2 separate regions of the Homo sapiens genome follow, and region 2 is linked to region 1. Evidence: fine-mapped expression QTL. A gene starts in region 1. The other region holds a variant in brackets. All regions are shown on one strand. Distances are between the middles of the regions. Region 1 holds the start of CASP8AP2 (caspase 8 associated protein 2). Region 2 overlaps MDN1 (midasin AAA ATPase 1).

Evidence for each region. PIP is the estimated chance that this variant, and not a neighbour inherited with it, causes the effect.
Region 2: its variant is fine-mapped to the expression of CASP8AP2 in whole blood (TOPMed, PIP above 0.99).

Annotation. Positions count from the first base shown.
Region 1 is chr6:89,828,544-89,831,454 of GRCh38, reverse strand. It overlaps CASP8AP2 (caspase 8 associated protein 2), which reads right to left and starts at 1,575. Exons shown (of 10, transcript NM_012115.4): 1 at 1,349-1,575. RefSeq lists an enhancer at 1,886-2,075 and a silencer at 2,176-2,225.
Region 2 is chr6:89,801,718-89,804,628 of GRCh38, reverse strand. MDN1 (midasin AAA ATPase 1) reads left to right here. Exons shown (of 102, transcript NM_014611.3): 2 at 1,075-1,301. Among named protein-coding and RNA genes, the nearest start is that of MDN1, 17 kb to the left of the region's middle. RefSeq lists an enhancer at 2,673-2,911. The variant A/G (reference allele first, on the strand shown) is at 1,572.

The sequences.
Region 1 (2,911 bases):
GGAGGCTGAGGGCAGTCTGATCACTTGAGCCTAGGAGTTCGAGACCAGCCTGGGAAACATGGCAAAACCCAGTCTCTACAAAATACAAAAATTAGCCAGGCATGCTGGTGCACACCTGTAGTTCCAGCTACTTGGAAGGCTGAGGTGGGAGGATTGCTTGAGCACAGGAGGTCAAACCTGTAGTAAGCCGAGATCTTGCCATTGCACTCCAGCCTGGGCTATAGTCTCAAAAAAAAAGGAAAAAAGAAAAAGAAAAATCATTACGAAACTGAGAATGTGTCCTTAATGTAGACGCTAAAAGACAAAAAATAAAATTTAGAGAAAAACACAAGCATTTGTAGAGAAAAACAGGAAAAAGCCAGAGAAGACAGTGTATTTTTACACTCATGGGAAAGGCTAATACAGCAAGACCCCAGAAGAAGAGGTAAGGGGCAAATACTAACAAAAGCTATCATATACGGCACATTTACTATGTTCCAGGCACTAACCTAAATGATCTAAATACATTATTCACTTAGTTTAAATCCTCCCCAGAGTTCTATGAGGTCCATATTATTCTTTTCCCCATTTTACAGATGAGGAAAACACAGACGATCAAGAAATTTGCACAAGGCAACCACCTGGTAAGTGGCAGAGCTGAAATTAGACCCCAGGTCTGTCTGTAAAGCAAGATGGCCAAAATCAAGAATATTCAATACAATATAAATGTTTTTGGAAAGAAGGCCATCTCTTGTAAAACGGAACGCCAGGAAAAGATAATTGGAGGGCATAGCGGGGATAGGAAGGGAGATGGGAGAATCCCTGCCATGAAAGCCTCTGTCCCCCTCCAGTCAAAGAGGCGCTGAGGGAGATGGGGGGGAAAGGCCTTGAGGAGAGGCGAAAGGTTTGCTGCTGGAGGTGTGGAGAATGGAAAAAGACCAAGGAAGAGTCGAAGAGTCAAAGACAACTTGATGCCTGAAGCACAAATGCTCAGCTCCTACGAATCCTACATTCACATCTGAGTTAGGGCCTACTATGTGCTAGGAATGAATCTAGGCGCTGTAGAAATGAAAAACTTATTTAGGCATGTTGGTTTGATGCCTAAATAAACATTTCAGAAACAATCAACATCAATGATCACCTGACACTCCAGGAAACCCATTTCTCCAAAGAACTCCATCCGAAAGATTTTAAGAGTATATTCCAAGGAGAGACTGGATGGTGGGGGGGAGGGGCAGGACGAGAGGCCGAAGGGACAATTCCTGGGCGCGCCCACCCATAGTCCCCGCCCAGACCCTCTCGAAGGACCACAGAGGGACGCAGGGTGCAAGCCCTGAAGCTGCACCGGGGGCGGAGGGAACGTGGCTACCTGCGGCCAGACGTCAGGCGCGGCCCTTCCCCGACCTACTTGGCCGCTCCAGATGGACTCCCTCCGACTCTCTGGTTTCCCAGGGGCAGCCGACCTCCACTCGGGGGACTACCGCGCCATGCAGCCTCTTCCTTAGCAGTCCCTCACGGACCGGGCCCCTACGACAACTTACCCGCCCTGCCCGGCCCAAGACAACCCGGTTCCTTTCTGCCCACCGAGGTCTCCCTGGCATCTCCACCAATACCAGAGCGCTATCAGGGTATGGAGGCGGGACTGAGTGCCTACGGCCAATCATATCAGACGCAAAGCACGTCGCAGCGCCCACAACTAGTTCCCGCCTTTGGAAGGGAAAAAAAAAAACACGGTTGGCGCCAAACTCCAGTAATCTTCCTAGGGCTTTAAGAGAGAGGGGCGGGGTGTAAGGTGGCGGGGAAGGCGATGGGGCGGGGCTTCAATAGGAAGGGGCTGACCTGAGTGGAGGTAGGGGCGTGGCCTGAGAGAAGCTTTTTAGTGAAAGACAGGAAGCCTTGAGAGGTCTGTCATTTATTTAATACTTTATCTTAAAATTCTGCTGTCAGCTGCGTGCGAGACAAAGTGCTGGGCTCGATTACGATGAATAAATTTGTTCCCTGCCCTCAGACGCGTTCCTGGATGATAGGCAGACAAACAACTTAGCTTCGGATGTTGGGAGCCTTAAGGAGGGGATACTAGTCTAGCGGGGCAGGAGAGAGAAGAGCTTTTTACAGGGTGGAATACCTGACTTGCCTTATAGAACCTGTAGGAATGGGGGGTGCCGGTAGGTCTAGCCTCAGGAGCTCAGCCTGAGCATTGATAGGTGCGAAAATAAGGCCACCTTCCTCGGCTACTTATAGTCTGCCTATATTCATCCCTACCCATTTCCTCGTTTGTCCACTTAGCTTTTTTTTTTCTTTTTGCTTTCAGACAGGGTATCGCTTTGTCGCTCAGGCTGGAGCGCAGTGGAGCGATTTCGGCTCCCTGCAACCTCCACCTCCAAGGCTCGAGAGATCCTCCCACCTCTGCCTCCAGAGTAGCTGGGACCATAGACGCGAGCGACCACCACCCCTGGCTGTTTTGTTTCGTTTTGTTTCTGAGATGGAGTTTCACTCTTGTTGCCCAGGCTGGAGTGCAATGGCGCGATCTCGACCCACTACAACCTCCGCCTCCGGGGTTCAAGTGATTCTCCTGCCTCAGTCTCCCGAGTAGCTGGGATTGCAGGCATGTGTTACCACGCCAACCTAATTTTTGTATTTTTAGTAGAGACAGGGTTTCGCCATGTTGACCAGGCTGGTCTTGAACTCCTGTCCTCAGGTGATCTGCCCAGCTTGGCCTCCCAAAGTGCTGGGATTAAAGGCGTGAGCCACCCACGCCCGGCCACCCCTGGCTAATTTTTTAAAATTTTTGTAGAGATGGGGTCTTGCTATGTTGCCCAGGCTGGTCACGAACTTCTGGGCTCAAACAATCCTCCCACCTCAGTCTCCCAAAGTGCTGGGATTACAGGTGTGAGTCACTGCACCTGACCCCATTTAGTCTTAACTGCCATAT
Region 2 (2,911 bases), 27 kb after region 1:
CTCCCAGGAATTAATTTTTTACCTCTGTCCTTTCCTGAAGAGTTGGAAGTTTTGTCTACTAACTGCAGAATTCATTTTTTTCTTCAAGAGTTAAAGGAGCTGGGGGAATTTTGGGGTTTTGAATTCCCTGGAGATTGTTGAAACCCCAGCACATAGATTATTTTTCAGATAAGTCGTGTAGCTTTTAAATGGAATCCAGGTATTAGTCCCTGTACCTCAAACTCCAGTGTACTGAAACTTATTTGTAACAGCCTTTATATTAAATTAACTCTGATCCTCCATTGCAAAAAATTTCCACGATATTTTATAATAGAATCTCACTTATGAAGTCTGGAAATTGGACATTTTAGTTCCAACCCAGGACTCGTCTCTGCTTTTCTACAGCAGTGCAAATGAATATTATTTACATAAATATTTTGGGCCAGGCATGGTGGCTCACGCCTGTAATCCCAGCACTTTGTGAGGCTGAGGCTGTTGGATCACCTCTGGCCAGGAGTTCGAGACCAGCCTAGCCAACATGGTGAAACCCTGTCTCTACTAAAACAAAACAAATCAAAACAAAAATTAGCCTGGTGTGGTGGTGGGTGCCTGTAATCCCAGCTACTCATGGGAGGCTGAGGCATGAGAATCGCTTGAACCTGGGATGTTGCAGTGAGCCAAAATCGTGCCACTGCACTCCAGCCTGGGAGATGGAGCAGGACTCTGTCTCCAAAAAAAAAAAAAAAAAAAAAAAGAAAAGAAAAGAAAAGGCCGGGCGCGGTGGCTCACGCCTGTAATCTCAGCACTTTGGGAGGCTGAGGCGGGCGGATCACGAGGTCAGGAGATCGAGACCATCCTGGCTAACATGGTGAAACCCCGTCTCTACTAAAAATATAAAAAATTAGCCGGGTATGGTGGCGGGCGCCTGTAGTCCCAGCTACTTGGGCGGCTCGGGCAGGAGAATGGCATGAACCCGGGAGGTGGAGCTTGCAGTGAGCTGAGATTGCACCACTGCACTTGCTCCTGGGCGACAGAGCGAGACTGTGTCTCAAAAAAAAAAAAAAAGTGAAAGATGTTTTGTTTTGCCTTTCTCAGGTGTGGACACCTCAAGATCGCCAGTGTGTCCTGAGTACCTTAGCACAGTTGCTTTTGGATAAGGACTGTACTGTGCTGGTTGGTCGCCAGCTTCGCCCTCTCCTTTTGGATTTGCTGGAAAGGAATGCCGAAGCCATTAAAGCTGGAGGCCAAATCAACCATGATCTGCATGAACGGCTATGTGTGTCGATGAGCAAACTCATTGGTAACCATCCTGATGTCCTCCCGTGAGTAGCAATTTTATTATTCGCATTTCTCCTTGAGGTGATAGAACCTGCTGTCTCCTGGGATGTAAGGGAGTCTGAGCTGAGAAGGTAAAACGGAAATACAGAAAGGAGAGAGATAAATAGTATTGTTTTATAAAAAGAGTCACAGCAGAATCCATTTATCCAGCTCAGTTCAGTGAGCATTTACTAGGTTTCTCTTAAATCTTGGCCATCAGAACAGACCTGGAAAGATGGCCAGGATATGTCCCCAGTGCTCTCAAGGATTGTATC[A/G]TGTGGCAAGACATGCATATACAGCGGAGTAAATGAGGTTTAACTGAGGCTCTTACAGCATCCACCTCTAATGGGAAAGATTCCTTGCTTGTTAGAGCAGCTGAAGGAGTGGATTAGAAGAGCTATAGTATCCCTTCCAAATTCTATAAATCTATCTGAATTAGTATACTAAGAGCTGTGTTAGAGCTGGATTTTAATGTGACTTTTAAAGAGATAGTAAAATATAGTTTTGAGGAATAATCAAAAGAGACAGCAAAACTGAGTGTCAGGGGTTTTTAAATTGAAAAGATTTTTAAAACTTTCACTGTAAAAATGATTAATATTCTGTGTACCAATAGGACATTTCTTTCTTCTCTTCTTTTTTTTTTGTGAGATGGAGTCCCACTCTATCACCAGGCTAGAGTGCAGTGGCATGACCTCTGCTCACTGCAACCTCTGCCTCCCTCCTGGGTTCAACTGATTCTCCTGCCTCAGCCTCCTGAGTAGCTGGGACTACAGGCGCGCACACCACCACGCCCAGCTAATTTTTGTATTTTTAGTAGAGACGGGGTTTCACCATGTTGGCCAGGATGGTCTCAATCTCTTGACCTCGTGATCTGCCCGCCTCGACCTCCCAAAGTGTTGGGATTACAGGCGTGAGCCACTGTGCCCGGCCAACAGAACATTTCTTATATCCAGTGTTTTATTTATTAGTCTTCATCAATGCAATAAATACACTTTGGCTTTCTTGGAAGTATGATATCTAGTCTGGTCCTTTAATGAGGAAATAGGAAATGAAGACTTGGGGGAAAACACTGTTGGTCTGAGCTTTTCTAAAAGGGGTTGAGAAAAAAATGGACCTGGTTTAATGGAACTAGAAAATATACAGCCAAGTAAAGATCGGGACTCTGAGAACGTTCCTGGCTTTCTCTATTCTGATATGTCAGTTAGGTATCAAAGTTCTGTCTCATAAAAAATTATCCAGTTTTTTCCTTGCTTTCTCTTCACCTTGATTAAACTTGTGCTCCCAAATCCCCTCAGCTATAGCTTTGGAGACAGTTTCAGAAAGTTAGAATTACACGTTATGTGTTGATTATTTTCTTTTTTTTTTTTCTTTTTGAAGCAGTCTCACTCTGTTGCCCAGGCTGGAGTGCAGTGGCACGATCTCACCTTACTGCAACCTCTTTCTCCTGGGTTCAAGTGATTCTCATGCCTTAGCCTCCTGAGTAGCTGGGACTACAGATGCACATCACTACACCTGGCTAATTCTTTTTTTTTTTTTTCTGAGACAGGGTCTGACTTTGTCGCCCAGTCTGGAGTGCAGTGGCACAATCTTGGCTCATTGCAGCCTCTGCCTCCCG